2 linked regions of the Homo sapiens genome follow. The main gene of each other region encodes a partner of the protein of the gene in region 2 in a complex. Each region holds a gene or a part of one and is shown on either strand. Other genes may lie near its edges. A codon is read from its position in the direction of its gene.

The links.
Region 1: the proteins of RBSN (region 2) and RAB4A are in contact, whole or in part, in a crystal structure (PDB 1Z0K), measured with the Homo sapiens proteins. Residues at the interface, in NP_001289307.1 of Homo sapiens: Glu441, Gly442, Trp443, Leu444, Pro445, Ser447, Glu454, Pro458, Leu459, Gln461, Gln462, Asn465, Ile466, Phe469, Asp480, Glu481, Thr484, Leu485, Asn488, Leu492, Glu495, Gln499; in NP_004569.2 of Homo sapiens: Tyr10 (codon at 7,464), Leu30, His31, Ile34, Glu35, Ile46, Gly47, Val48, Glu49, Phe50, Gly51, Ser52, Lys53, Lys63, Gln65, Trp67, Arg74, Phe75, Ser77, Val78, Ser81, Tyr82.

The regions. Positions count from the first base shown.
Region 1 is NC_000001.11:229,262,554-229,278,830, reverse strand, and holds the start of RAB4A (ras-related protein Rab-4A), read right to left. Parts: upstream 7,721-16,277; 5' UTR 7,492-7,720; coding exon 7,461-7,491; intron 1-7,460. UniProt on the Homo sapiens protein: The small GTPases Rab are key regulators of intracellular membrane trafficking, from the formation of transport vesicles to their fusion with membranes.
Region 2 is NC_000003.12:15,090,934-15,106,949, forward strand, and holds the start of RBSN (rabenosyn-5), read right to left. Parts: upstream 8,216-16,016; 5' UTR 8,102-8,215; exon of another isoform or gene 8,089-8,101; intron 7,342-8,088; 5' UTR 7,186-7,341; intron 5,778-7,185; 5' UTR 5,602-5,777; intron 5,356-5,601; 5' UTR 5,188-5,355; coding exon 5,040-5,187; exon of another isoform or gene 4,738-5,039; intron 561-4,737; exon of another isoform or gene 406-560; intron 1-405. UniProt on the Homo sapiens protein: Rab4/Rab5 effector protein acting in early endocytic membrane fusion and membrane trafficking of recycling endosomes. Required for endosome fusion either homotypically or with clathrin coated vesicles.

The sequences.
Region 1 (16,277 bases), on a different chromosome or scaffold from region 2:
GGGGGCAAAATCCTAATTACAGTCAGTTGAAGAATGAAGGAAGTAAAACTGTTGACAAAAAGTACTGACAGCTCTTATAAGCAGTTTAGCTGTGAGGGAAAGGAGAGACAGAGGTGGTTAAAGGAGGAAGGCGCAAAGTCAGGAAGCTACCAGTGGAAAGGGAAAAGGAGGGGAACAGACATGATGGGTGAAGTGGGGACTTGAAGCTTTAGAGATGGGGTCCAAAGTAGAAGGCTGGGGTTAGTTTTAAACAACAGAGACCTTCTGAGACAACATGGAAAGGGTTAAGGATGAGGTAAGCAAGTTTGCAGACATGGCATCTTTTCCTTACATCTACTGGTGGTCATCTACTAGGAGTGAGAGAATGGGCTTGAGGAGATGTGTGAAGGTTTAAAATAGCTGATGTGGAGAGAGAGGTGGCCAGGATAAGAAAAATGATTGCTAAGTATTACTGAGTACCCAGCTGGAAGCAGAGACCATACATCTGCAATGATCTCAATCTAAAAGGAGCTCTGTCTGCACAGCAGGCAAGGCAGATGGCTGGGTAGCCAGGGCTGGAGCTGTGCAAAGTGTGTGTAGTTGAAAGAAAAAGAAGGACGAGGTGGAAGGAAAAGCCATGAGTCTTATCTGAAGAGAGAGCAGCTCATTGCCTGAAAAGAAGAAAGGGGCCAGGCATGGTGGATCATGCCTGTAATCCCAGCATTTTGGGAGGCCAAGGTGGGTGGATCACTTGAGGTTAGGAGATCGAGACCAGCCTGGCCAACATGGTGAAACCCCGTCTCTACTAAAAATACAAAAATGAGCCAGGCGTGGTGGCGCACACTTGTAATCCCAGCGACTCAGGAGGCTGAGGCACGAGAATCACTTGAACCTAGGAGGTGGAGGTTGCAGTGAGCTGAGATAATGCCACTGCACTCCAGACTGGGCAACAGAGTGAGACTCTGTCTCAGAAAAAAAGAAGAAAGGGAGGAGATGGACCAGCAGCCTGAAGCTCTTACAGTGAAGACTGGATGGAGTTGGAGTGGTCAGAATGGGATAGGTGACAAAGTCCAGGGAGCAGTCAGGGAAGTGAGTACCTGAAGAGGTGGTAGAAGAGACCTGACTTCATCTTGACTAAAGTCAAGGAACTGTGGAGCGGAGTTGTTGATTGACCTCTGCAAGGACAATGCAGTGACCTAGGATCAGTCAGGAGTTAGAGCAAAGAGCAAGACCATATGATAGATGACCTTGTTGAAAAAGGACTATCCCCAGGGTCATCAGATAACAGCAACGAGGAGCTGGCAGAGGACAGAATATAAGATGACATGTACTTTAAAGGACAAAAAGTTTTGGTACAATGGTCAGGGAGGAATTGAACAGTGGGAACCTTGATGAAATGCTGGTTAGGAGAGGTGGAAGGTTTGGGCAGCAGAAGAGCACACGACCTGTAGAGGAGCGGGAAGAATAAGAAGTAAAGGAGGTGGAACAGGCAGCAAAAGCTAATCATGGGACTCTGCAGTGTGCCTGTAGGAGCCGCGGTTTACCTAAGCCTGAATTAAACGTTGTCGGCACAGCGGAATCCTGACGCTTGTAAATTTAACATTTGCAGCACAGACTCCCAACAATTGCTCCAGGTTCGTGATTGGGTCTTTGATTTTCCTGACCCATTCGTTGGGATCACACACACTGAGGAGGCTGATTTGAGGAAGGCAGTTACTTAGCAGGCCAACTCTTTGTTACTTTCCACTGATATAATAATAATTTATATAAATATAAATAATTATATATAAATTATAAATAATTATATATAAATTGTAAATAATTTATATATAAACTATATATATTATATATATCTATATTATATATAGATATATAGTTCTTCTAAAGTGGAAAACTACTCCCATCCTGGCCCAGGAGGCTCTTGTATCCTCATGAACCCAGGTTCCAGGTGCTGTGGAAGCTGCCTAGGGACAGTGGTGCAGATGCTGTGTGGCAAGCTGTAAGATAGTCAGCACAGCTGCTCAAGTCACTACGACGAAGAACTTTGGAATGAAACCCAATTTGCTTACCTTTTAATCATGTAAACTGGCCCTAATTTAACTTTCCTTTGCATCTTTCAGGGTAAACAGTAACTTAAACCATGTTAAGAAGTCAGCTCAAAAGACTCTGAAACCCAATAGATCCAGGAGGTAAGGATGGGGAAGAATTAAAAATGGACTCTAACTTTATCTTCTAGGCAAACACAGGAAAAATAGAAGATGGGGCATAGGCGTGAATAATTTGTTGGGTTTGGGACGTACTGCATTCAGATGCCTGTAGGCCACCCAGGTGTAGTTAGGTAGCTGAAAAAAAGATCTGTAGTTTGAGTGAAGGATGTGACTAGAAATATAGATGTTACAGTCATCAGAGCATCAGCAGTAAAGTCACAGGCATGGATTGGAATACTTTACAGTTCAAATGACCATGAGAAAGAATATTTTGTTTTTTCAAAAAACCATGCTTTCAAAGTTCTCGAGCATGGAGTCATTACATGCCTCCCTGGACCAACAGCACCTGCACGGCCCGGGAGCTGGTCAGATGCCGATCTCCCTCACCCTCCAAGTCAGGATCTACATTTTAATACACCAGGGGACTCGTGTGCACATTAGTTTGATAAGCCACTGGTGCAATGTTTCCCAAACTTTGGTACTTGAAATGTTCACCAGCTTTCAGTGAATGAGAAAAAGAAAATGACAAACATGTATAATCATATATTTATTCAACTTGAAGAAATGTCCTTTGTTTTGGTGTTACAGGATTCCTTTGTTGACATGTTTACCTGTTCCATCTTTCATGAAATTAAGGTAAAGGGCAATTGGGGTGATTTCCCTAAGAGCAAGTTATTTCATACTTTATTGGAACCAGGTGACTTTGAAATGCTATTTATACACGGGCACGGTGGCTCACGCCTGTAAACCCAGCACTCTGGGAGGCTGAGAAGGGCGGGATCATGAGGTCAGGAGTTTGGAGGCCAGCCTGACCAACATAGTGAAACCCCGCCTCTACTAAAAATACAAAAAAAAAATTAGCTAGGTGTGGTGGCGGGCGCCTGTAGTCCCAGTTACTTGGGAGGCTGAGGCAGGAGAATCGCTTGAACCCGGGAGGTGGAGGTTGCAGTGAGCCGAGATTGTGCCACTGCACTCCAGCCTGGGCAACAGTGAGAGACTCTATCTCAAAGAAAAAAAAAAAAAAAAAAAAGGAAAAGAAATGCTATTTCCTTTACCAAGGATATCTTCTTCACTTCATCTTGCCTTGTCATCCTAAATTTCTCATGAATCGTATTTTGATGAGCAAAGCCTATATTTTAGTTTCTTAGGGCTGCCATCACAAAGAACCACAAACTGGGAAGCTTAAAACAACAGAAGTTTATTGTCTCACAGTTCTGGAGGCCGGGCATTCAAATTCAGAGTGCTGACAGGGTCAAGGTCTCTCTGAAGGCTCAAGGGAAGGATCCCTCCTTGCCTCTCTCTAGCTTCTGGTGGTTGCCAGCCACCCCTTGGCACTCCTTGGCTGGTAGATGCATCCCTCCAATCTTGGCCTCCATCCTCACATCTCTTTCTCTCTGAATGCATTTGTGTCTAAGTTTCCCTCATCTTATAATGACACCAGTCACTGAATTAGGGCTCACCATAATTCAGTACGATGACCTCATCTTAACTTGATTACATCTGCAAAGACCTTATTTCCAAATGCGGTCACATTCACAGGTACTAGGGGTTAGGACTTAAACAGATATTTTGGGGAACACAATTCAACCTGAACAGCCTAAAATGATACATTTTTAAGGAAAATATTCTGATAATTCTCAAAATTATATGGCAAATACTGTAATACTGTGCTGTTTTCAAAATGAAGCACAAAATAAAAACATTAAGAGTATATTTTAATAAAAATGAGCATAGAACCAGCAATTTGAATTGTATTCTTCTGTTTCATTTGTTATTCCCATTGTAGACGGCATAAACTCTAATATATGTAGAGATTTTGTATTAGATTTTTCCTCACTCTCGAACTGCCCCAGCACTTAATTTCAAAAGAAATTCCTGGCATTTTCCCACTACATATACTTTTCAGCTCCTTTCTGAACATCGCTGCTTAGCATCAAAATTACTTTCAGCCAATTTGTAATCTCCCAGGTCTCAGATGGCTGAAGCAGAGTTCCTTGGGAAGTCCCAAGCCATACTAACTGGCCAGGGCTTTAAGAATGTAGTGTATCTAATGGCATTTGGTAGAACTGTTTCATATTCAGACTAAGGGTTTCATCCAAAACCTAAGATTTCAATTTGTTTCACGATATTACATAAAGTACAGTATTCATGTGGTGACTTCAAAGCAACAAAAATGTTCAACACTACTCAGTCTATGGAAGGTGAAATACTGTTTTAATATGTTAAAAAGCATATTAAATGAACACATTAATGAGAGGTAGCTCATAAACAGTACATTTCAGCAGGGCACAGTGGCTCATGCCTGTGATCTCAACATTTTGGGAGGTGGAGGCACGAGGATCACTTGAGCCCAGGAGTTCGGGATGAGACTGAGCAACAGACAGAGACCTCGTCTCTACAAAAAAAATTAAAAAAAAAAAAAAAATTAGCCAGGTGTGGTGGCATGCACCTGTGGTCCCAGCTACTCAGGAGGCTGAAGTGGGAGGATCACTTGAGATGGGGAGATGGAGGTGGCAGTGAGCCGTGATTGTGTCACTGCACTCCAGCATGGGTGACAGAGCGAGGTCCTGTCTCAAAAAAAAAAAAAAAAAAAAAGGGAAACAAAAACCCAGTACATTTCATTCCTCATCTCTCTGTCAAGCTACACAGAGCCTCCTTTTACAGAAGAGCAAATAAGCACAGAGTACAAAGGAGTTTAAAGGTTAGGCAAACATTCCTTCACCAGCTCAGAGGCAAATGTCCAGAAGAGAGCCTGACTGTTTCACTTTTAAGGAACAATGCTGTATAAATATGGCCACTGATACGTCAAAGTGACAGCCTAGGACTTGGTTCTAGGTGACTTTTACTTCAGCTTGGCAAACTTCAACTGTCCTGCTTGCTCCTTCTAAAACTCATTTTCTTTTTTTGAGACAGAGTCTCACTCTGTTGCCCAGGATGGAGTGCAGTGGCACAATCTTGGCTCACTGTAAACTTCACCTCCTGGGTTCAAGCAATTCTCATGCCTCAGCCTCCCAAGTAGCCGGGACTACAAGCGTACCACCATGCCCAGGTAATTTTTTGTATTTTTAATAGGGCTGGGGTTTCGCCATGTTGGCCAGGCTGGTATTGAACTCCTGAGCTCAAGTGATCCGCCCAACTCGGCCTTCCAAAGTGCTGGGATTACAGGCGTGAGCCATCACCTCTGGCCTCATTTTCTATTTATTAGTTTCTACTAGTTTTCGATTAATTTCCTCTATTAGAAGAAAAGATTCAATTCAGAGTTGCAAAGTAAAAACATACTTGGAAGTTACCATGAAATAAGAATACTAATGGTCAAAGCCTTATGATCAGAATGTAATCAATCTGTGAAGCTCAAAAGTTCAGTTAACTGTGTCTGAAGTGGAGATGCCAAAGATAAGCTCTATTTTATCAGTTGTTATCATGCGTATACGAAAAATGAAACATAAAAGCTCTATCTCCTGAACTCTTCCAATCCTTTCTTACTGATTCATGACCCCCACTTGCTTTTCTTATTTGGACATTCCACCCTTCCCCTAGTGCTCCGTGCTCCTTACTCAGGTTAAAGAAACTAAGCCTGGGCTAAAGAGCACTTGAAAATAAAGAAGTGCAAAGATGTAACCAAAAATTGCTAAAGACCATGTTTTCCTTACAACATTTCTGACTGTGGTTCTCTACAGGAAGAACCAGACCACTGCCATTTGCAGAAACATTTGCAAACACTTGTCCTGATGAAGGCATCGACTTACTGGAGGATTTCCTACGCCTTCTAGGAACAGATGTCATGCCCCTTTGTCACCAAGAACAGGGCAGTACCAGTCACAGGAGTCACTCACTGAAGGTGGACCAAATGCACTGTGACCCCAGCATGGAAGCCCTTCCAAAAGTTCCCATTTTTTCTTACAAGACAAACTGACGCCTTCCTCAAGACCCTCTCCTCTCTGCCTCCTCATCCACCTCTCCAGCGTGGTACTCAAAACACACCCTTCTTGAGTTACCCTTCCCACAGGCCTGAGATGTTCTGCGTGCTGCCTGGTTAATGCCTCCCTGACACCCCTGTCTGGGTCATCTTTCTTTCTAACACACTTTCACGGACCACACTCCTTCAGAACTCTTGCCTGGTTTTTAATTATTCACTCATTAGTATCACAATTGGATTAATACTGCATTCCCTCAATAGACTACGCTCCATGAGACCAGAGCCGTGTCTGCTGTGTTTCTGCAGGATGTACAGCCCTCCCAGCACGGTGCTCGCTTCCCTAATGCCATTCCACAGTATTTGTTGCAGAGAAGGAAGCAGCATGCCAGGACAGATGGAGACAGGACTAATTTGGCTTGAGGTATGTAATTTTGAACTTGAGCCTCTCTCTGGGACTGTAAAACTCCAAATCAAAGTCTTAATCTGAGAATACATACATCTGAAAGAGTGATTAGGGACTGGTAAACATCTATTAATATTCAACTCTGATACAAAGTACAAGTTGTTTATTCTTACCACGCAAGGCCAAAAAAGGGGAGAAAAAAAAAAAAGCACACAGCATATGCACTGGGAAAGCTTTCGCTTATTCAAAACAGTATTTGTCAAGCACCTCCAGGTCTGGGTGCTGCAGGGGAAACAAAGATTAAACAGCCAGGGCTTTGCTTCCAAGGTGCTTACGGTCTTAAGAAGGAGACAAGACATGTTTATAAATAGCCAAAATGCAACCCAGAAAAGGCTAAAAAACACTGAGAGGGAGGGAGAAATAAACGAAGCAAGAGGTCTCCGGAGGAAGAGATGAATGAATTAGCCTATTAATAACTCCTCACTGTAATCCCAATGTAAAGCAAGGAATTCCAAACCAGGAAAGGTCAAACTGAAGTATTTGAGGAACACAGGCGTCGCCCTAAGCCCTTCACAGGCTCGCTGGGGATAATATCGCAGCTGAAACCGAACATCAAGCTGGCTTTTCAAACCTTCAGTTATTTACATTAGACTGAGAGGGGAAAAGCGCTAAGAGTGCAAGAGCAGAGAAAGAGCAAGAGGAAACTTGAAAAGGCGGATCACGCCAATGCGCTGTGCACAGCGCCCCCGCGCCCCGCGCACCCGCTACCCCACCCGAGCCCCCAGCGGCCCGCGTCCCCCATCCCGGTCCCAAGCCCAGACACCTCCGAGATCCGTCCCCCGGCTCCGGCCGGCGCCACCGCCACCCTCAAGACCCCCGCAGCCCAGGCCCGGCCCCGCGCCACCGACGCCCCCCGCGGCCCGACCCGCGCGCCCCGCCAGCCCGGGCCTCGTACCGTAGGTTTCGGACATGGCCGTCTGCGACATCTTGGGAGCGGCGCCGCCTCTCGCCGGGTCACCGGCTGCACTCGCCCGCGGTCCGCCGGCGCGTCTCGGTGGGGAAGGACCTGGGGCGGGGGACCGGAGGAGGGAGGGGCCCGACCGGTCCCCACGGCAACCGCCGGTCTCCCAGCGGCTGCGGCCCAGCCGGACTCCAGCTCCGCGCAGGCGCAGGGCCCTCCACCCTCCGTCCGGCCGCGACCGCGAGGAGGAAGAGGAGATGGGCTACGCGAGGCCCGGCCCACCCCGCGTTCGCGCGTGCGCACGGGGAGGCCGGGGCGGGGCGCGTGAGGACTTCGGCGCGCGCCGGAAGCACGTGCGCGGGCTGGGCGCTCTGGCGGTGTGCGCTGAGGTGGGCAGAGCGGCAGGTGGGGGCGTTGGGGGCTGAGTCCCGATTTCCCTGAGGGAGGGTCGGGTAGAGGCGGGCGGTGGGCAGGTTTGGGGGTGACAGAGGGCTGGGGACAGTGGGGTCCAGTTGCCGGACAGAGGAGGAAGGTGCCCGCACTGGGGAGGAAAGCAGTCCATTTGCCAAATTGGCCCGTCTCAGTTAAGACGTTGTCTTCGGTCATCATCTGCGGCTGTCAGCCAGGAAAAAACTTCCCTGACGCTGTTACGATGGAGGCCAGAACTTGGTTAATGTGTAACAAGGAGGCAGTAGGCCCCAGGTGTCCAGCCAGAGGCCGCCCTGTGAATGGGAGGCAGGTTCATTTACCCGTTGGGAAGCTAAGCTTTCACTCCAAACTGCCGGGCCCTCTTGGATGGAGCTGAGCGGGTGTGGGCGGAATGACAGAAGCGCAAGATGCCCAGGTGCTAAAAGGTCATCGCAAGACTACAGGCTGCAGCCTCTCCACATCCCATTTTAGAGGGTTCTGGATTACGGTTGAGAAGTATCTCCCGGCCCTCAGCTGGGGATGTGTTTCCAAATTTAGGAGTTTTTTTAATTTTTATTTTTTAACAGGGTCTGGCACTGTCAGCCCAGCCCAACCGATTCTCCTGCCTCAGCCTCCTGAGTAGCTGGGGCTAGGGGCTCACACGACCACACCGCGCCAATTTTTAAATTTTTTGTAGAGATGGGGTCTTGTTATGTTGCCCAGGCTGGTCTTGAACTCCTGAGTTCAAGCATCCTCCCTCCTTGGCCTCCCAAATTGCTGGGATTACAGGCATGAGTCATCTCACCTGGCCTTGGATAGTTTGGTTTCAGAAGCAAAACTGAGTTAGAATCCCCTTCTGTGGGAAATGTAGAGATAAACATTTATGGGAAAGAGAATTTTGGTTGAGGATTTGGCCCATCTGAGCTTGATCAGGGCCACATAGCGCCTCATAGTTCCCAACCTTGTTCACAATAGGTAGTCGAATGCTCAAAATATCCTTGGCTAAGCTCCCAAGTGACCTGGACTGTGTGGAAAATGCCAGTACATACTTTTGTGTGTGTGTGTGTGAGTCAGTTTGGCTCCATCCTCCACATAAATTGGCATCAGAGCTTCCCTCTTCCCCAGTGGCTATTTGGGTCGGTATTTTTCTCTTGTCTCCGATCCTAATAACAAATAAATGCAGTTTTTTCTAAATCACAGAGAAGGCCCCATGGTGAAAAGTTGTGACAGCTGTAATTCCTAAAACTGTTTTATATATATTTCTTGTTCAGTGGCTCAGATCATTTGTTGCTTTCTTGTTTGTCTCTCTGCATGTCGTGTTTGATTTAGGCTCCTGAGTATAACAGATTGGTTCTGATTAAAACCATTTCAGAGGAAAGACAGTGATCCCAGGAAGCGGGAAGAAAACAGCATCACCTGAAGTTATTCCTATTCGTTAGATTTGTTTTCTTCCTGCGAAAAACTGCTATGTACAAGAAAGAAGTCAGTGAGCTGCAGTGATAGTTAGCATTATTGACTGAAACTGGACCAGAGATCCCTGAAACCTGGACAAGGTGGTAGAAATACAAATTATGCTGCCATTTCAAAGCTGTGGGCAGTTTTCTACTTTGTGGAAAATGAAGACTTAGGTAGGCCTTTGGGAAAGACGATTTGTTTTGGAAAAACCACCCAAAGGGATCATTTGGTTTGCAAATGTAACTGCAGTATCACAACTGGAAGAAGAAATATACAAGGGCGAGGTTTGAAGGAGCCCTTCAGTATCCTTGGATGATACTGTGGAAGATTCTTTGCATCTCAGTAACTTTGGATCTTTGAAGATCCAAGAAAATAAATTTCTTCAAAATATTTTTAGAGACTGCTTTGATTCTGAGGCACTGCTGATTATATGGAAGAAAAAAATATTGGAAGATTAATTTGTGGTTTTCTCCAGTTATCGTCTCCCTTCTCTTTGGGGGAGGTTTGTGACGCAGTAAAAACAGATATACAAAAGCCTAGGCATGTTAGAGATTTGCCTAAGGGAAATGTAATTATGAAGAAGGATTTTTTCAAGCTGAAACTAGATCCCACTTTTTTCCAGGTCAGTGGGTCCTTCAAGTATCTGGTACTTTCCTTCCTGCTTCCTGACAATGTTAAAGAATGTGGCATGACCTTACATTTAATGCCCAACGTGAGGAGCCCTGGGGCTTGATGCATGAGATTCTTGGAGCTAGGCCTGGTGGAGGGCACTGGTCACAGCCTCGGTGGAATGGTGACTTTCTTTGGTAACTGGAATTGAAGAAAATGAGTGGACTTGTGTCTGAGCACTTGGGAACTCAGCAATCCCTGGGTGTTACCTTGAGAAGGAGCCAAATTCCAGACATACAAGTGGAGACTTGAAAATGGAAGCTCAATTCCACACCCAGGCTGGTGGAGACTATGACATATAACTCACATCTTCAAGAAAGTAGACACCTCAGAGGTCACTGGGCCACTTTACCTTCCACTGTCAAAACTATGTCCATGATCAGATACCTCTGTTGCTAGGGAATATTCAGTCAGAATGGGCTAGATTAACTGCAGTAATGCAGATCTCTCAACCCATTTATGACTTACGCAGCAAAGTTCCTCGCTCAGACTACCTGTCCACTCCCACGAGCAGAGACTTGCTCATGGGCCCTCCTAGACCCAGGCTGACCGAGTGTGTTTTATCTAAATGCATCTCCACAATCACTCAGGTAGGAGTGGCTATGCATTAGGACTGATTGTGCATTAGTTAGAGAAGCACTTACCAGGAATTGCTATAAGAACTTCTATTTACATTTCATGGGCCAAAGCAAGTCATGTGGCAACACTTAATTTCAAAGAGGACAGGAAATGCAATATTGTTATGTCCCTGAAAGAAAGGAGAAGAGAAAGTCTATGGAAAGACATTATGACTACCACTGGAATTTTCACCTGTCCAGGCAGCTCATCGTGCTTTTATTTGAAACAATTTTATTGAAGTATAGGCATAACTGCACATACGTATGTATTTATTTTATTTTATTTTTTGAGATGTAGTCTTGCTTTGTTGCACAGGCTGGAATGCAGTGGCGTGATCTCAGCTCACTATGACCTCTGCCTCCCGGGTTCAAGTGATTCTCCTGCCTCAGACTTCTGAGTAGCTGGGATTACAGCCACGCGCCACCACACCTGGCTAATTTTTGTATTTTTAGTAGAGACGGGGTTTCGCCTTGTTGGCTGTGCTGGTCTCAAACTCCTGACCTCAGGTAATCCGCCTGCCTCAGCCTCCCAAAGTGCTGGGCAGCCTCCCAAAGTGCTGGGATTACAGGCGTGAGCCACCGCACCTGGCCTGCACATATTTAAAGTGTACATTTTGACAATTTTTAATATATATGTACGCTTGTGCTTGCTGCTCCAGGGGACCGCTATTTCTAGGCCTTTTCAGTGGACAGAGGCATTTTTGTGATTGTTTTATCTCATTTGTCACTTAGGAAGAATAACTTCTTGTGAGGTTTAGTGGTGGTTTTGGGGTTGATAGTATAGGTCTTCATCACAGTCCACCTCCAAGTGATAATACACTACTTTATACAGAGTATAAGAAACTGACAACCATTTGCTTCCATCCTCCCCCAGCATCTGTGCTGGGGATGTTGTACTTCTACATATGTTGTACACCCACATACATTGTTATTGTTTTTACTTAATAAGCTACTAATTCTCTGTCTCTCTTTTCCTTTTAATTGTGGTAAAATAGACATAAAATGTAGCAACTCAGCCATCTTGAAATGTACAGTGGCATTAAATATATTCCCATTGTTGTGCAACCATCACCACCATCCATCTCTAGAACGCTTCATGTTGCAAACCTGAAACTCTGTACCTGTTTAACAACAACTCCCCATTCACTTCTCCCCACAGTGCCTGGCAACCACCATTTTACTTCCTGTCTAGGAATTGGCTTCTCTAGGTACAGTACCTCATATAAATGGAGTCATACAGTATTTGTCTTTTCCTCACTGTCGTATTTCACTTAGCATAATGTCCTCAAGATTCATCTGTAACATTGTAGAATGTGTCAGAATTTCCTTCCTGTTTAAGACTGAATACTATTCAATACTTTGTACATATATACTGCATTTTCAGCCAATTCTTTTCAATAGATTTAAACAATAAGAAAAAAGTGTTTTATATTTACTCACATAGTTACCATATCTAAGACTCCTTATTCTCTTGTATAGATTAGATTTCCATGGTCTCATTTCCCTTTTGTCTGAAGGGCTTTCCTTGACAGATCTTGAAGTGTAGATCTCCTGGTGACTAATTCTTTCAGCTTTTATATGTCCAAAAAAGTCTTTATTTCACTTCTGTGTTTGAAGCTATTTTTGCTCAATTTCGATTTTTAGGGTTTTCAATTTTTTTTTTCTAACATGAAGATACTGTTTCAGTGTTTTCTGGCTCATTTTGTTTCCGATAAGGAGTGAACTGCCATTCTTATCTTTATTTCTTTTATGCAACGTGTCTTTTATCTCTGCTTGGTTTTAAGATTTCATCTGTATCACTAGTCTGAAGCAATTTGATTATGATGTGCCTTGGTGTTGATTTTCTTTAAAGTTCTTGTCCTTGAGTTTCACTGAACTTCTCTGGTCTTTGAGTTTATAGTTGCTATCAGATTTGGAGTTTTTTCAGCCATTATTTCTTCAAATATTTTTTTCTGCCCCTGCCTCTCCTTTCCTTTGGCGATTCTACTACACAAATATTAGATCACTTGAATTTGTTTCACAGCTAACTCAGGCTTTGTTCATTTTTTGTCAGTCTTTTTTCTTTCTGTTTTTCATTTTCGTGTAATTTCCATTGCTGTGTCTTTAAATTCACTCATCTTTCCTATAGTATCTAATCTGCTGTCAATTCCATCCAGCGTATTTTTCGTCTCAGGCATTGCCATTTCACCTGCAGAAGTTTCACTCGGTGTCTGGACCTGCATCTGGGTCCTCTGGTTTCCGTGTTTAGTGCTCAAGCATATGGAACATGTGTCATTTCTACTAACTTTATCACCTAAGTAATTTCTGAGATTGTTTATATTGATTGGCTTTTCTCTTCATTGTAGGTAATATTTTCCTACTTTACAAGCCAGATAATTTTTTATTGAATGCCAGACATTGAGAAGTTTACTTTGAGATACATATAATGTTTATTTTTATGAATATTTTTGAGCTTTGTTCTGGGGTGCAGGTAAGTTCCTTGGAAAGAGCTTGATGCTTCAGGTCATGTTTTTACACTTTTTTTAGGGGGTGGGCCCTGAGCAGCATTCTACTCAACAAATCCTTGAGTTGTGAAGGTTTTCACCATGATTGGCGGAATTCGGAGTTCCTCTGGGCCGTGCGTGAGTGCTGGGGATTGTTTTCTCTAATATTCGCTGGTGATTCTTTATCTGGCATGGGGTAGGAGTGCCTACCACAGTAGGAATTTGAAATGCAGGTATTTCTTCACTTGCCTGCACTGCTCAGTAAAGACTTGAAGGGAACCCTCTGCAAACCTCTGGCACTCTCTCTCTCTCTGTACAGCTCTGCACAACCCCCAGCTCAGGGAGTGCTGCTTCTTCCTCCTGTCTGACTCCAGAGCTCAGTCTGTGGCAGTCTTTCTCTGCAGTCACTTACTTGCTCATTCATTTCATCTGGTCTTAAGGCTTTCAATATGATCTAAAGCTGATGATTCCTTAATTTCTAGCTTGCCTAGGCTTCTATGTACAATTGCTTACTTGATACGTCCACTTGAATGAATGCCTATTAGGTTTCTTAATACTAACGAAATAAAAACCAAGGCCGGGCACGGTGGCTCACGGCTGTAATCCCAGCACTTTGGGAGGCCAAGGCGGGTGAATCACAAGATCAGGAGTTCAAGACCAGGCTGGACAATATGGTGAAACCCTGTCTCTACTAAAAAATACAAAAAATTAGCCAGGCATGGTGGCGCGCACATGTAGTCTCATCTACTCAGGAGGCCGAGGCAGGAGAATCGCTGGAACCTGGGAGGCAGAGGTTGCAGTGAGCCGAGATCATGCCACTGCACTCCAGCCCGGGCGACAGAGCAGATTCCGTCTCAAAATAAACAAACAAACAAACAAACCAAACATCCAGATTTCTTGACCAAACCAGTGCCTTCTGCAATCTTTTGTATCTCAGTAAATGGCAGTTTGCCAGGTGTATTAGTCAGGGTCGGGGTTCTCTAGAGGGACAGAACTAATAGGATACATGTATATATGAAAGGGAGTTTATTGAGGAGAATTGACTCACACGATCACAAGCTAAAGTCCCATGATTGGCTGTCTGCAAGCTGAGGTGCAAGGAAGCCAGTGGTGGATCAGTCCAAGTCCCAAAACCTCAAAAATAGGGAAGCCGACAGTGTAGCCTTCCATCTGTGGGCAAAGGCCCAAGAGGCCCTGGCAAACCACTGGTGTAAGTCTAAGAGTCCGAAAGCTGAAGAACTGGGAGGCTGATGTTCAAGGGCAGGAAGCATCCAGTACGGCAGAAAGATGAAGGCCAGAAGACTCAGCAAGTCTGCTTTATTCTAGCCGCTCTGGTAGCCGATTAGATGGGGCCCACCCAGATTGAGGGTGGGTCAGCCTCTTCCGGTCCACTGACTCAAATGTTAATCTCCTTTGGGAACACCCTCACGACACACCTAGGAACAATACTGTGAATCCTTCAATCAAGTTGACACTTAATATTAAACATCACACCAGGGCCAAACCTTGGGAGTCCTGCCTGACTTCTCACACCCACATTTGATCCATCAGCAAGTCCTACAGGCTCTACTGTCAAGAGCATCCAGAATCTGCTTTTGCTACTCCCACTGCCTCACCCCCGAATCCTGGCCACCTCCTGGACCAGCCCGCCTCACCTCTCTCCTGCCTTTTGCAGCTACCTCCCCTTCCTGCTTCTATGCTTGTCTCCCTGTGTTGTCTTTTCTCAACACAGCTGCTAGAGCAATCCTATTAAAATGTAAACAAACAAAACCAAAAATAAATGACAATTCTCCTTTAAAACAGCCAGTGTTGCCTGTAATCCTAGGACTTTGGGAGGCCAAGGTGGGTGGATCATTTGAGGTCAGGAGTTCGAGACCAGCCTGGCCAACATGGTGTAACCCCCCAACCTCTACTAAAAATACAAAAATTAGCCGGGCGTGGTGGGGGCGCCTGTAGTTCCAGCTACCTGGGAGGCTAAGGCAGGAGAATCGCTTGAACCCGGGAGACAGAGTTTGCAGGGACCCGAGATCATGTCACTGCACTCCAGCCTGTGCGACAGAGCGAGACTCTATCTCAAACAAAACAAAACAAAACAGCAACAAAAAAACAGCCAGTGTTGGGGGGAGGAGGGGACTATAGGTCCCATCAGGCCACCCTCTGCTCAAAGCCTCATCTCACTCACAATGGCCTATAAAGTCATCCATGGTCTGCTCCCCCAACCCCTCATTCTCTTGACTCTGATCCTACAGGCCTTCTTGCTGGTTCTTATACACATCAAGCAGCCTTTGGCCTCAGGGCCTTTGCATGTGCTTTTTTCCTCTTCCTGGAATGCTCTTGTCCCAGATGTCTACATGGCCCTCACAGCCCACATGTGTTCTGCTCACAGGGCACCTCATGAGGAGGGCTTTTCTTTTCTTATATGAAATAGCAACCCCTCTCCATTTCATCCCCCCAGCACTTCATTTGCCCCCTATTTTGTTCTATGCCCCACTCCATAGCATTTAACATCACTTAAAATACATATCCTTTATTAGTTTATTGTGTGCTCCCTCTCTAGATTATAAGTTCTATAAGGGCAGGAAATGCTTTGGCCTTGTTCCCTGCTCCATCCCCATGCCTAAAATAGTATTTGGCACATAGTAAACCCTCAATCACTCGGAAGATGTTGAATGAGTGAATGAATGGAACAAAACTCAGCAGCTCTCTATGGATTTAATGTAATGAACTTAATTGTAAATATGTTGATTTATGGGAAATTTAAAAGTGGGGGTCTCTGGCCGGGCTCTGTGCTCAGACCTATAATCCCAGCACTTTGGGAGGCCGAGGCAGGCGGATCACTTGAGGTCAGGAATTTGAGACCAGCCTGGTCAACATAGTAAAACCCTGTCTCTATTAAAACTACAAAAATTAGCTGGATGTGGTGGTGCATGCCTGCAATCCCAGCTATTTGGGAGGCTGAGGCAGGAGAATCTTTTGACCCCGGAGGTAGAGGCTGCAGTGAGCCAAGACCACACCACTGTACTCCAGCCTGGGTGACAGAGAGAGATTCCATCTCAAAAAAAAAAAAAAAATAGTGGATCTCTTATATGCTACCAAGTGATTGTGGGAAGGCTATAATAAAACTAAAGTATCGTCTAATACTAGTATAATTTATTGAGTACTTGATAAACACTAGGTAT
Region 2 (16,016 bases):
TTGAATTGGGCCAGGCGCAGTGGCTCACACCTGTAATCCCACAAGGGAGGCAAATTGCTTGAGTCCAGGAATTCAAGCCAGCCTGGGCAACATGACAAAACCCCATCTCTACTAAAAATACAAAAAACTAGCTGGGTGTTGTGGCATGCACCTGTAGTCCCAGCTACTTGGGAGGCTGAGGTGGGAGAATCACCTGAGCCCAGGAGGTCGAGGCTGCAGTGAGCTGAGATTGTGCCACTGTACTCCAGCCTGGACAACCAGAATGAGACCCTGTCTCAAAAAAAAAAAAAAAAAAAAAAAAAAATTAAAACTATACCTCAGTTAAAATAATGTTTTTTAAAAAACAAGTTCTATAGTACTAATTCATTTACCCCAGAAACTCATGAGTAAATTCTTCTCATTTACCTCCAGGATGGGATTCAGCTAAACCTCCATCCGTGGACTGGTGTTCCCCATAGGCTTAACTGGACACAGAGTTCTTGCTTCCCCACTACTGCCCACGCACTTATTGAATGCATGTGAGAATACTTGCAAAAAGCTTCAAGAAACAGATATAACATCTACAACATAACACAAACAGAACCAGATTGGGTAAGAAGAGAAAATGAACATTTCCTGTATTTAGCCATCGTATGTACCAGGTACAACGCAAAGTGCTTGCAAATACATTATGCCAGTTCATGCTTACAATGTTATAAGGCAGGTGATAGCCCTACTTACAAATGAGGAAACGACATCAAAGACAGGGAAGAACTTGCTTCACCCAAGATCACAGAGCTTACAGGTAACAGCAGGGCTGGAAGTAGACACCTCATGTGCCTGAAATGAGAGCTCCAGCTCTCCCCCGCTAGTCCTGATTCACAAACTATGCCTCTGCAGAACATGGGTTCTGCCACCTGTGCTGGTGCAGAGAACCACCTGTTAAACTGAACAATCAGCTGGTGTGGGGCGGGAAGAATTCTCAGTTCTAAGACGCTCTCTCATGAATGTTCTTTAATCTTGGATGACTGCTATCCCTTTCTTCCACCAGAATCTAGTAGAAAATATCAGACTGAATATAAAATGGTATCATTACTTTTACTTTTTAATTATTTATTTTTTAGAGACAGGGTCTTGCTCTGTCACCCAGGCTGGAGTGCAGTGGCTGATCATAGCTCACTGCAGCCTTGATCTCTTGGGCTCAAGCGATCCTCTCGCCTCAGTCTCTCAAGTAGCTGGGACTATAGGTGTGCGCCACCATGACTAGGTAAATTATTTTATAAAACATTTTTTTGTAGAGATGTTGCCCAGGTTCGCAGGCTGAGGGTGAGATTGATAAGAATACACTTGTCTTTTTTTTTTTTTAAGACGGTCAAGCCAATAAGCAAACTTCCTGATTATTGGTCACTGTGGGACAGCTTTGTCCAAACTGGAAAAATACTAAAACAAAAGGACATCCTTTAAAATGCACTAAAGTGGGTTTTTTTTGTTTGTTTGTTTGTTTTTTTTTGAGACAGAGTTTCACTCTTGTTGCCCAAGCTGGAATGCAATGGCAGCAATCTCAGCTCACTGCAACCTCTGCCTTCCAGGGGTTCAAGGGATGCTCCTGCCTCAGCCTCCCGAGTAGCTGAAATTACAGGCACGTGCCAACACACCCAGCTAATTTTTGTATTTTTTTTAGTAGAGATGGGGTTTCACCACATTGGCCAGGCTGGTCTTAAACTCCTGGCCTCAGATGATCTGCCCACCTCGGCCTCCCAAAGTGCTGGGATTGCAGGCATGAGCCACTGTCCCTGGCCTAAAGCAGTCTTTTCTAGTAACAGGGGAGAGAAAACTGCCTGATGTGAACAAAGGGTCTAGCAAACAGGAATGTGAGTTAGCAAGTAACAATTCATTTTTGCAAACAAGACTAAAGTATCAGGTTAAACAGGCAATCTATACCATTTAACCACTTTTAGGAGATAGAAAAACTGCCTGGCAATGTTCCCAGAAAGGACATAGCCCTTCCAGAGAAGGCCAATTAAAAATAATCCCATATATTTTAAAAAACACTAACAAAGCAAGAAGCCACAGTCAATTTTCAGCTATCTTTTCTTCTACTTACTGAAAATGGGCTAGACTGGAGCTGAACCAGGACTGGGCCCCGAACCCACTAACTTTTTACTAATGACTAATCTATCTTTTCTTTTTTGAACTGCCCCCAAAACCTAATACTAAGGTTCACTCTTTTGGCTTTAACTTTTCACTTGCCCAAAACTAACCATGTCATAACATTTCTAAGAATCAAAAGACCAAATGGAGACGTAATCTGCTTTCTAAAGGGCTTTTCAAAAAACCTTTCATGTCAATCCTTAAAACTTTACTTTCCTGATTCTGAAATGCAGAAAACTGCAACATAATCAAGAATTCCTTTCTAACTAAAGACATGATCATTAATAGTACTAGAGGTAGAGATGTCGGGGGTAAGGCAGGGTGGGAAATAAAGGGAAAAACCAAGAGGATCTTTTCTTTCTTTTTTTTGAGACAGTTTCACTCTGTTGCTCAGGCTAGAATGTAACAGCCTTGATCTCCTGAGCTGAAGCGATCCTCCCACCTCAGCCTCCTGGGTAATTGGGACTACGAGTGCGTGCCACTATGACTGGCTAATTTTTTTAAATGATTTTTTTGTAGAAATGGTCTCGCTATGTTGCCCAGTCTGGTCTCCTGGGCTCAAGCAATCCTCCTGCCTTGGCCTCCCAAAGTACTAGAATTACAGGCATGAGCCACCGCACCCGGCTGAAGTAACTTTATTTTGTTTTTTTGTTTTTGAGTCAGAGTTTCACTCTGCTGCCCAGGCTGGAGTGCAGTGGCATAATCATGGCTCACTGCAGCTTCAACCTTCCGGGCTCAAGGGATCCTTCTGCCTCAGCCTTCCAAGTGGCTAGGACTACAAATGCATGTCATCATGCCCAGCTAATTAAAAAAAATTTTTTTTTATTTTTGGACAGGATCTATGTTGCCCAGGCTGGTATCAAACTCCTAAGCTGAAGCGATCCTCCCGCCATGGCCTCCCAAAGTGCTGGGATTACAGATGTGAGCCACTGTGCCCAGCCAAGGATCCTTTCAAGTTTCTTTCACAAGGCACAAAATTTCTATTCTATTTAGTATTCCTTAAATAGATTCCCATATCTGTATTCTCTAAATAACCTTAAACATTTTTCCTCTTAAAAAAGGGTCACTGTAGGAATCCGGGAACATTCTCTAACCTCTCTACCCACTGGTATCACCAGGTTGAGCAATGGCATTGTATAGGACTTAGTTCAGCTGACACCAAGACTGGAAGCTAGTTGAAAATGATGGAAGCTCTTCGGTTGTCCAAAGGAAACTTACATAATCAGGTTTTTTAGTTTTGTTTTTGCTTCATTTCCCCCAGGAAGCTGCAATGCATGTTGTGATTGGAACACGGGGCCTCTCACCCTCAGTGATGTCACGTGCAAAGGGCAGCACTGGATTTACAGATGACAGAAGACCTACGTTCCAGGCCTAGCTCTGCCAATTCCTGTGTGACCGTGGATAAGTAACTCAACATCTCTTGAGCCTCACTTCACTTACTATCTGTAAAATGAGACCAATCACCTTCTTGCAGAGTTGTTAGGAGAGTCAGATGAAACAATAATGTCTGTGAAAGAAACTCTAAAAACTATAAAGCACAGCATTTTTTTCCCTCCTAATAGTTTTGGCTCTGTTCTATAGCCTCTACAGCCAGAAGCCACCTCATCCACCAAAGCCCTCAGGATTTCAGAAATGTTTGCCTTTGTTGTTTTTGGATAGAAGTTATAACTGTTTATGCTTTTAGAAACTCTTTTTTACTGAACAGAAAAGTGAGATAGAGTGAGACTCTAGGGACAAATATCTGATTACAAAGTGCATATGATTCACCTGTCTGAAAGCTGAAGTCCACTTAGAAATACATGATCATTCCTTTCTTTCTCTCCCAATAAAGACTTTGAATACAACATCCAGAACTCTTTAATCTCAAGGCCTTCAGAAATGCTGCCAGCTGTGAGAAGCAAGTTAGCTGAATAACTACAAAATAAGTTCCAGAGGAGCAGCATCTTTGGCGTGTGTGTGTTTGTGTGTGTGTGTGTCTCTCTCTCTGTTGCCCAGGTGCGAGTGCAGTGGCATGATCATCGCTCACTACAGCCTTGACCTCCCTGGGCTCAAGTGATCCTCCTACCTCAGTCTCCTGAGTAGCTGGGACTACAGGCGTGCACCATCACGCCCGGCTAGTTGTTTTTTTTTTTAATTTTTTTTGTGAGACGGGGTTTCGCCATGTTGCCCAGGCTGGTCTTGAACTCCTGAGCTCAAGTGATCTGCCCACTCTGGCCTCCCAAAGTGCTGCGAATAGAGGCGTGAGCCACTGTGCCCGCCCAGAGGAGCAGCATCTTATCTGGAGGTTAGAATTTGATGTCCAGGAAATACAATAAACATATGTATAGTGAAAAGTACCTTTGAAAAATTCTTTCCACAACTCTCTCAAACCTGAGCTCTTGGAAGCTCAAAAACCAAGGTTTTTAGGTTGTTTTGTTCTTCGACTATGACCTTCCTTTTTCTGGGCTATAGAGGGCAAGATACCAATTGGGGAAGGAAGGATGGTGGGAAGTCTTAAATTTGTGACAGGTAAAATGGGTGCATAATGTGCCTCCATCATCATAGCAAAGGAAAGAAATTCCTCTCCAAACCCTGTTAGGCTGGTGGTTAAAGAACAGTCAAGCCAGATCACAGCAATTACATTTACTAGACTCAAAGTCAGATTGTTTCTCTGAGTGGCTTCAGACAAGTTATCTAATCTCTCTGTGTCTGGTTCGAAATGTGGCTTACAGCCACACAGTTATTGTGAGGATTAAATGAAATTAATAAACAGGGAAACTCTGAAAACGCCTGGCACATGACAAACACTAGTCATCTGTTTGCTACTACTATTATCATATTCCTGTGGCAACACCAAAGCTGATGAGAACTATCCCGTGAGTTAAAGCTCTCAACGACAGCAGGGGATAGGCAAGGTCCTCGCCTCTTACTTTTAATTTGCCCTTTGACATCACGGTCTTCCCCTGAGTGTTCTTCCTCGTAATGTGAGTGAAGCTGATAGAAAGACTGCAGATCCTTCAGGCACAGAGGGCAGAGGAAGCCCTCCCTCACTTCCCCTGGGTCGTCCAGAGAAGCCATGGCAGTGCCGCTCTCAACCCTAGGAAGGCAGGAATCTCATGCCAAGAGTCAGCTTGATTCCTCCCAAGGAACCATGGTTCCCGCAGCATTAGCTTAAGCAGCACACAGATGGTGAGGAAGTGGCTTCATGGCCCTGGATGAGGTTTCCTCTCTGGAGTAGGAGGAGCCCTAAGAAAGAAAAGAAGAAGGGAAAAAAGCCAATTCAGGCAAACTGGTAGCAATTGAGGATTTTCTTCATTCTTTTCACAGTTCAATGGGGTACTTAATGTTTATTCAGTGCAAGTTTGAGAAAACAAACTCTTTCTCAAATCCTTAGACCAAGCAAGCTGCAAAACCTAAAATGTGAAAACATCACTGGAGAACAAAAACTCAATGAAGTGGGAAGCACAGATTCTTGAAATAAGCAAACAATACCTTGGCAATTCTCTTACATTCATTCCAAATGATCCAACTTCATAATTCATATGCCACTTCAGCCACTGGGGGAATGTCTGAAGTACTTATCAACAAGCAGAAGTTTTTACTTGATGCTCTTTACCTTGATTGTTTATTCAACCACATATAGTAAGTTCTTGATACTTGTAAGACACCTGTGTTAGAAATGCAAAGATGAAAAAGATATAGTATCTGCCATAAAAACATACAAAAAATCAAAAATCCTAACATCAGTTAAAGAGAAACAATAGAAACCTACTAGTCAAAAAGAAAAAATCTATTTTATATTTGTAGAGCACTTATCTCTAATGGGCGTACTATATTTTCCTTTTTAAGAGACAGCATCTTGCTCTGTCACCCAGTGAGCTATAATTGCTCACAACAGCCTCGACCTTCTCGGTTCAAGTGATCCTCCTGCCTCAGCCTCCTAAGAAGCTGGGACTACAGGAGTATGCCACCACACCCAGCTAGTTTTTAAATTATTTATAGAGACAGGTTCTTGCTATGTTTCCCAGGCAGGTCTCTAACTCCTGGCCTCAGGCAATCCTCCTGCCTGAGCCCCCCCAAACTGCTGAGATTACAGATGTGAGCCACTGCACCCTGACAGATCTTATAAGCCATTAAGTGACAGTTAAGTAGCAAACCTGATGTTCTCACTGCTTCAAAAATAAAAGGCTGGCCAGGCATGGTGGCTCAAGCCTGTAATCCCAGCACTTTGGGAGGCCAAGGCAGGCGGATCACCTGAGGTCAGGAGTTCGAGACCAGCCTGGCCAATATGGTGAAACCCTATCTCTACTAAAAATACAAAAATTTGCCGGGTGTGGTGGTAGGCGCCTGTAATCCCAGCTAGTGGGGGTACTGAGGCAGGAGAACTGCTTGAACCCAGGAGGCGGAAGTTGCAGTGAGCCGAGATCATGCCATTGCACTCCAGCCTGGGCAACAAGAGCGAAACTCCATCTCAAAAAAGTAAATAAATAAATAAATAAATAAATAAATTGATTTGGGGCCTAAACACTTCAGGGCTTAATAAGTTACATTCTCTTTCTTACTGGCTCATGGCAAAGTCACTTCCAATGTCACCTCATCAAGACACCCAGTCACAAGAGAAATTGAGACAAAACCATTCCACAAAAGCAGAGAAATTTCTCCCCAAGAACCTGGGGATACAAGCCACAGTATATAGTGAGGGGAGATGTGTGACCCTCAGCTTTGGATGGACTGTAGAAGACCACCGAGGAGGGACTGCCTGGTCCTCAAAGCTGAAGGGTGGCAGCAACTCAGAAAATAAACAAATGAGACACCAGGTCCCTATTTTTTCCCTCTAGTTAAGAAACCCAGTGACTTCATAACTTTTCCACTGGAATATAGCAGCCCTAGGTCTGGCCTGTTCCCTCCCCAGCCAGTGGTTCATCTGATGCTGACTCTGACAGCTCCCTTTCTTCCCATGCACTCACCCCTAACGACCACAAATAACACAAAGCCCACCACATCCATGCCACACAACCACCCTTCACGCCTCAGCCCAAACCCAAACCTCACTTCCTCAAAAGAAATGCCTCTTACTCAGAGCATCAGAATGGACTTCTCCTTCACAGCACTCATCTCAATTTATAACCGCAGGTACATACGTGAAGTGACCAAGTAAGACTGTAAAATCTGGGAGGGCACAGACTCTATATGTTTTCCACTTCGCCGTCTCCCCAGGGTTTAGCACAGTACCTGGCACACACAATGAAGCAGCACAATAAAGCTCCATGAATGAACGAAGAAATGAATGAACTCCAAAATCATATAACTAAGCATACACCATAAAGAAATCTAACACAACCACCGAATTGGACCCCACAACCATAACTGAACACATAAGCAAGCCCCTCGCACTCTAAATCACGTAAAAAGTAAAAAAAATAAAAATAAAAAAAATAAATATAGCTACATGTTCTGCAGCCGTACATCCAGCATGAATGTCACCCCGCCACATGCCGCATCGACGACACATCCCACAGCCGCACTCAACCCGGCCTCACGATCGCAACCACAACCCACATAACTAACATGATTATACACACATCGCATGACCACACACAACACGAACGACTCAATCCCGTGAAGCAGACATGACAACGTCACACATCGCACAGACACCACACAAAACACTCCGAACATCTCCACACGAACTCAGAATACAAACGCTTCAGCTTTACACAACCAGAGAATCAAACACAACCGCTCGGGAGACAAGCACCCACCCACTCCACCCACAGCTGCACAACCAAACCCAAGTGTATACGCCCCGCGTAACCGCACAACCACACAGAGCCCAATCATCAAAGGCACACACAAGCGAAACGCACGGCCTGAAAGCCCCATCTCCCACCTCTCACGTCACACCCACCACAACCACACACGGCCCGCCCGTCTCCGTTCTGGAGGAGTCGTGTCCCCGCCCCCCAGACTGGGCCTGACCCTCTGTATGTACCCTGCCGGGCTCCTGCGGGCACCCAGGTTTGTCCCCCCCTTCAGGCCCGGGCTCTGGGCCTCCACCGTCCGTCACTCAGCCGCAGCCGCCATCTCCATCGGTCGCTCGGAACTCGGCAGGTGCGCCTGCGGCGGCGACGAAACCGGAAGACAAGCTGGTAGACGCCTGTCGAGCGCCGAGTCTTCGAGGGCGCGAAAAGGGCGGATACGGATTCGAATAGTGGAGGGCGGGCCGGCGGCTTCTGCGCAGGCGCTTTCCGAACGAGGGAGGGGATGGTGGGGAGCGGAGAGAAAGTGGGGCTCGGTAATTTTGTGCGGTTCTTACGTCCCGAATTCGAACTAATAGCGCGTCAAAGCCAGCCAATGGCTCTGCACCGCCTTGTACAGGTGGGAAAGCTGAGACCAGTAGATCTTTGGCTCTTGACCAAAGTGCACAAAGAATAAGGCAGCCAAGGAATCAAAGTTCCTGAGAGCTAGAGACAGAAAAAATATTCAGGGGACGTGGAGGCGATGGAAAGTCCAAGAATAGAACCACATGAGAGTGGAGACTTGGTATGAGAAGGTGTATCCCGGGGTGTACAGCATGGCCAAGCCTGTGGAAAAGATGGCATTTTCAAAAGGCAGGACGATTGATCAGCCAGGACCTACCCCGTGCCTACGCTGTGCTGGGTACCACGGGGTATAGAGAGGCAAAACCTCATCCCAGTCCCGGAGACCTATTTGCTTTGTGCCCTGCACACGTTCTGGACCTTAGCAATAGCCAGCCTCTAGGAGCAAGAGCTGCAGAGAACGATGGGACGATGGGACGATCCTGGGCCTCCGTTTACATCCCTGCAGTGTTACTGGCCCCCTTTTACAGAAGTAAAATGGGGATGATAATGATAGTCTCCGCTTCACAGTGTTGTGAAGATTGAGGTAATTGCACGGTAGGTAGGTAGGTAGGAGGGTGTCCTGCATATTGGCTTTGCCCATCTCACTTTCCCTGCCTCCAAAAAGTCTTCCCCACCTGGTCTCTGGACAGGAGCACTGAGCCTCCATCACCTTCCATTTAAGGACATGGGGCTCCGGACTTGGAGAGCATTGAGTTTTTGGAAAGCAATCACCAGTGAAAGGGCAGTGAACTAGGGGTCTAGAGATCTGGGTTCTAGCCCTGGCTGTACGTTACTTTGTGGCTTTGAGCAGGTCCTTTCCCCTTTCTTCGCCTGAGTTCTCTCATCTGTACAAAAGAAATTGGCTCCAGTGACTTAGCCTTTTCTCTCAATCTGATGGCCAATTTTTTTTTAACGTTACAACATCTGCAGGAGCGAATAATGACTTCCCTTTGTTTACTGATGGAGACAAGGAAGAGGCTTCCTAACCTGTCAGAAGCAAAGCAACATGCCAAGCTCCCCGTCTCCATCACTAGCTTCTGCCTTAGGTCCCAAAAGCCAGGACTTTGGGAGTAAAACCACCCTTTTGAAAGTCTGAAGCCACCGAGGTCCCAAAACGAGCCACACTTACAGGCAGGACTATGTTTTGGGTAGGGCAATGAACGTTTATTAAACCATCATGATTTTTGCTTGTCATTTTATCATTTACAAAAAACATATTTGGTCGGGCGCGGTGGCTCACGCCTGTAATCCCAGCACTTTGGGAGGCCGAGGTGGGCAGATAACTTGAGGTCAGGAGTTCAAGACCAGCCTGGCCAACATGGTGAAACTCTGTCTCTACCAAACATATAAAACATTAGTCGAGTGTGGTGTCGCTCGCCTGTAATCCCAGCTACTCAGGAGGTTGAGGCAGAAGAATTGCTTGAACCCAGGAGGCAGAGTTTGCAGGGAGCCAAGATTGTCCCACTGCACTCCAGCCTGGGCAACAAAGTGAAACTCCACCTCAAAAAAAAAAAAAAAAAAGAAAGAAAAGAAAAGAAAAAAATATCATATTCATCATTTCATTTGCTCAAAAAAGCAATAGCTATGTGGCCTCAACTTGTAAGTTAATTCTGGAAATCACAGTGGATTGGGCACTGCTCTTGATATTGTTTCTTTTTTTTCTTTTTTCTTTTTTTTTTTTTTTTTTTTTTGAGGCAGAGTCTCACTCTGTCCCCCAGGCTGGAGTGCAGTGGCGTGATCTCAGCTCACTGCAAGCTCCGCCTCCCAGGTTTATGCCATTCTCCTGCCTCAGCCTCCCGAGTAGCTGGGACTACAGGCACCCGCCACCACGCCCGGCTAATTTTTTGTATTTTTAGTAGGGACAGGGTTTCACTGTGTTAGCCAGGATGGTCTCAATCTCCTGACCTCGTGATCCATCCGCCTCGGCCTCCCAAAGTGCTCGGATTACAGGCGTGAGCCACCGCGCCTGGCCGATACTGTTAATGATAATGACAAAGACCTTCCTATATGCTTCACACTTCATCAAAAGTACTTTCTTTAATCCTTTAGGCAACTCTATGACTATTTCCAGTTTGATAATAATAAAAATGACTAATATTTACTGAGGGATTTGCACATGCCAGACACTGTTCTATGTGCTTTCCATATCTTAACTCATTTCATTCTCACACAACCCAATGATGTACAAACTATACAAAATGTAATAATATTCCCATTCTATAGAAGGGAAGCTGAGGCACAGAGAGGTTAGGTGACTTGCCCAGGGTCACCAGCTGGTGAGCCTTGAACCCAGAGTCACCTTGCCTTGAGGCTTTCACAATCCCCACTTTTCCTTCCTCTGTGAAGTGCTGATAGACTTCCTGTACCTCCTCAGCTTCCTCCAGGCACCACTCCTGTACTGGGCATAGAGAGGGGATGTAAGCCAATTAGTTCAAAACAGAAATGTGCACGTGCACACAGATGCTCTGGTGTGAGAGGAGAGACCAGCAGAGTCCCCTGCAGGAATTCACGAAAGGTTTCCCAGAAGCGGGCAGCACGTGAGCATGGTCCTTGGGTAGAAACGATTGGGAAGGGCCTTCCAGGCCAGGGGAACAGCATATGCAAAGGCATAGTTATGGAGAAGAACATGAGTCCTTTGAGAAACTCACAGAAAAGTTCATTCACACATAGAGGGATGATATCAAGCCACTCCTCCTTGTTCCCAAAACTGTAGGCAGCCACTTCTAGTGAGAGAATCGTGGACAGCTGGGTCTCTTCACCCTTGCCCCCTGCCTTAGGGTTCTCTATCTTTCTGTCTCTCTATCCCTCTCTCTATCTCACTCTCTCACTTTCTCTTGGCCCTTATTTGTCTAAGTTTATCCCAAGCAGCACAAGACATCTTGGCACCACATTAAAATCCTTGGGCAAGAAAATAAATTATGATATGGATAACATAAACGTCATTGGGGAAGGTCTGGGCACATCATGTAACTTCCCGAAGGGCCAACTGCCCTCCAGGCTGGCCTGGCCCCAGCTCCCAGGCCTCTGCCAGCTGCTGTGGTCTGAGCCAGCGGGTTGAGGGCATTGAGGTTGGCACACCCTGTCTGCTGGCACAGAGAAATGAGGGTGATGACAGACAGCCTGGCAGAGCCTTGCCTGGAGGATGGAGGGAGGGTGTGCTGGGCTGGGCAGTGTCTGAGGGAAGCAGGTGGCAGTTGCTGTGGCCCTGTCAGGAAGGAAGCAGGGAATGAAGAAGGAAGAGAAAACGAGGGGAGAAAGGAAGAGGAAGAGGGAGGGAAAGAATGACAAGAAAAAAGCGAAGATGGAGCAAAAGTCGACCTGGGTTTGAATCCCAGCCCTGCCACCTGTGGCCACGTGAACCTTGGGCGGGTCACTTAAATTCTCTGAGCTTCAGTTTCCTTATCTGTGAAATGAGATAATTATAGTACTCACCTCTTAGGTTGGAGGGTTAAATAGCTTAATATTTGGAAAGTGTTAGAACAGCGCCTGGCACAGGGGAAGGACTATGTAAATGTTTGTTAAATAAAGAAAAAGGAAGAGCAGTGTAATTCACATGCCTTGGCTGTTGTGTTGCGCTGAGTCAGACAATAGCATGAGGGTGTGAGGATCCAATCTGGTGTCATAGAAATAGCTTTGAGAGTCATGGCCTTGCCAGATGGGATGTCTCCAAAAAGAACTCAGAATAGAATCACATAGCAACTAGATTCATTAAATCCAATAGTGGGTGGGGGAACAGCCTCAGCAAACCTGAAAAGCAGGAAACATGGAATTGACTTGGGAGATGTGAGCTTCAAAGCCAATCAGTTTGCAGGTAGCGGGCTGGCATTGTCTTTGACAAAGCAGGACCACTCCAAGCCCATTGGGGCCTGTGGCAAATGGGAAAGAGGCACCACTCCCTTCTCTCCCATGGACAAAACCTTGTGCTGGCACTCAAGCCCTGCATTTGGCAAATGGGGCACATACTGGATTTCAGCATCCACTTACCCCCACCCCCACCCTACTCCCAACTATGCTGCATACAACCTGCACGGTGGCCCTAAGTGCAGGGAGGAGGAGAATCAAGAGCACAGCATGGTCCTCAGGTCACGAGAAAAAGTCACGCTGGTTGTCTGCAGCTTCAGATCTCATTCCCTGACTTACATCTTCAGAGATACGCACCTTCAGCCAGTTGAGAAGTTAACCTCAATTTTAACCCAGATTTGAAACAATCTGTGTGTATATGGTATTTTAAGTATTTGAGGGATTTAAGAGTGTTTGGCATATTAGAGCATCTAACACATTCATCTCATGACTCCAGTTTAAAATCTGTAACTCAACAAATGACTTAGGCTTGTGATTTTAAGTTCATTCAACAAACTATGTATTAAGCACCTACCTACATGAGTGCCTGAGATAAACAAAACAGACATTGATCCTTGCCCTCAGGGAGATGACATTCGCATGGAGAGACACAGATCCTAAACAATTAATATACTAAATAAGTATGTTATATAGCACATTAGAAAATGGTAAGTACTATAGAAAAAAAAAACAGAGTAAAGAGAACAAGGAGTGCCAGGTTGCAGAACTTATAGCGTGGTCAGGGTAGGCCTCATTGAGAAGGCAACATTTGAGAAAAGACTTGAAGAAAGTGAGCCATGTGGATCCCTTGGGGAAGAGCATTCCAGGCAGAGGGAACAGCCACTGAAAAGTCCTCATGTGGAAGTGTGCAGGGCAGTTTGCAGAAAAAGTAATGAGGCCAACACCCATGTCCATAGCAGTATTATTCACAATAGCCAAACGATAGAGACACCTCAAATGTCCATCAACATGTCAACATAGAATAATCAAAAGAGTCAGCATGCGGTCTTTTTGTTGTTGTTGTTGTTTTTGTTTGTTTGTTTTTAGAGACAGGGTCTCACTCTGTCACTCAGGCTGGAGTGCAGTGGTGCAATCGTCCCACCTTAGCTTCCTGAGTAGCTGGGACTACAGATATGCACCCCCACACCTAGCTAATGAAGAAAAAATTTTAGAGGTGAGGTCTTGCTATGTCACTAGCTCAGAATGTAGCTTAAAGAGAGTTTAGTCAAATGCAAAGGTTGAGGACTGCACCCTGGGACTGCACACTTCCAAGTTGCCTTGGCAAATGCTCTGGAGAACAAACAAGAGGCTCAAGTTTTTAATGAGAAAAAGGATGAGGCTGGGCACAGTGGCTCATGCCTGTAATCCCAACTACTTGGGAGGCTGAGGCAGAAGGATTGCTTGCGGCCAGGAGTTTGAGACCAGCCTTGGCAATATAATGAAACCCCATTTCTAAAAAAAAAAAAAAAAAAAAAAAAATTGAGTTAGAAAATTAGCTGCGGCTGGGCATGGTGGCTCACAGCTGTAATCCCAGGACTTTGGGAGGCTGAGATGGGTGGATCACCTGAGGTCAGGAGTTCGAGACCAGCCTGGCCAACATGGCAAAACCCCATCTCTACTAAGATACAAAAATTAGCCAGGCGTGGTGGCTCATGCCTGTAATCCCAGCTACTGGGGAGGCTGAGGCAGGAGACTCATTTGAACCTGGGAGGCAGAGGCTGCAGTGAGTCGAGATCATGCCACTGCACTCCAGCCTGGGCAACACAGCCGAGACTCTGTCTCAAAAAAAAAAATAGAAAATTAGCTGGGCATGGAGATGTGCACCTGTAGTCCCAGCTACTTGGGAGGCTGAGGCAGGAGGATCACTTGAGCCCAGGTGTTTATTATTATTATTATTATTATTTTTTGAGACAGAGTTTTCGCTCTTGTTGCCCAGGCTGGAATGCAATGGCATGATCTCGGCTCACTGCAACCTCCACCTCCCAGGTTCAAGCAATTCTCCTGCCTCAGCCTCCCAAGTAGCTGGGATTACATGCATGTGCCACCACACCCAGCTAATTTTTTAGTATTTTTAGTAGAGACGGGGTTTCACCATGTTGGTCAGGTTGGTCTTGAACTCCCGACCTCAGGTGATCCTCCCGTCTTGGCCTCCCAAACTGTTGGGATTACAGGTGTGAACCACTGTGCCCGGCCAAGCCCAGGTGTTTGAGGTTACAGTGAACTATGATCATGCTATTACAGTCCAACCTGGGCAACAGACTGAAACCCTGTCTCAAAAAAGAGAGAGAGAGAAAAAGGACAAATCCGGAGAGCTTACAATTACAGAAGTTGTTCATCAGGAATTCTCATTGGTTTACAGAAATAACATTGGCTAATGATTGGCTACATATTGTTGAACTATAGGGTGTATGGCATTTGATGGCTACTTGGTGTCAGAGCTGGCACAGCCAAGTGGGTTCAAGAGGTAATTATTTAGCTCAAGGAGGAGTGAGATGCGACTGCTGTTACATTTTATTTTTTAATTTTTATTTATTTATTTGAGACAGGGTCTCACTCTGTTGCCCATGCTGGAGTGCAGTGGCGTGATCATGGTTCACTGAAGCCTCGACATCCTGGGCTCAGGTGATCTTCCCACCTCAGCCTCCCGAGTAGCTGGGACTACAGGCGCCTACCACCATGCCTGGCTAATTTGTCCATTTTTTGTAGAGATAGGGTTTCACCACGTTGCCCGGTTGGTCTCGAACTCCTGAGCTCAAGCAATCTGCCCACCTCAGCCTCCCAAAGTGCTAGGATTACAGGCGTGAGCCACCGAACCCAGTCTGCTGTTCCATTTAATTTAATTTAATTTAATTTAATTTAATTTTTTTTTTTTTGAGACGGAATCTCACTCTGTCGCCCAGGCTGGAGTGCAGTGGCACGATCTCAGCTCACTGCAACCTCCACCTCCCAGGTTCAAGTGATTCTCATGCCTCAGCCTCCTGAGTAGCTGGGATCACAGGTGTGCATCACCATGCCTGGCTAATTTTCGTATTTTTAGTAGAGATGGGGTTTCACCATACTGGCCAGGCTGGTCTTGAGCTCCTGACCTCAAGTGATCCGCCCGCCTCGGCCTCCCAAAGTGCTGGGATTACAGGTGTGTGCCACCGTGCCCGGCCTGCTGTTACAGTTTAAATACCTTTCTGGGCCTGATAATTTAAAGTGGTTAGCATTTCTCAGAAAAAGGTTTTCTTTCTCAAACAGATGAATGAATAAACAAAGCATGGTCTATGCTTACAATAAAATATCATTCAACCATAAAAAGGAAATGAATTTTGATATCTGATACAACATGGATGGATCTTTTTCATTACATTTAGTGAAATAAGTCAGACACAGGAGGACAAATACTATATGAGTCCACTTATGGTGAGATATCCAGAATAGTCAAATTCATAGAGACAGACAATAAAATAAAGGCTACCGGGGTGAGGGGAGGGAGAGTTATTGTTTAAAGGGTACGGAGTTTTTATAAGGGATGATGAACAAGTTTTGAGTATAGATAGTGGAGCTGGTTACACAACATTGTGACTGTATTTAATGCCACTGAATTGTGCACTTACAAATGATTAAAATGATAAATACTGTGTTGTGTATGTTTTACCACAATAAGCAAAGTAATTTCTGGGCGAGATGTCAAAGCCCTGGCAATGGTAAGTGATTGGCTCG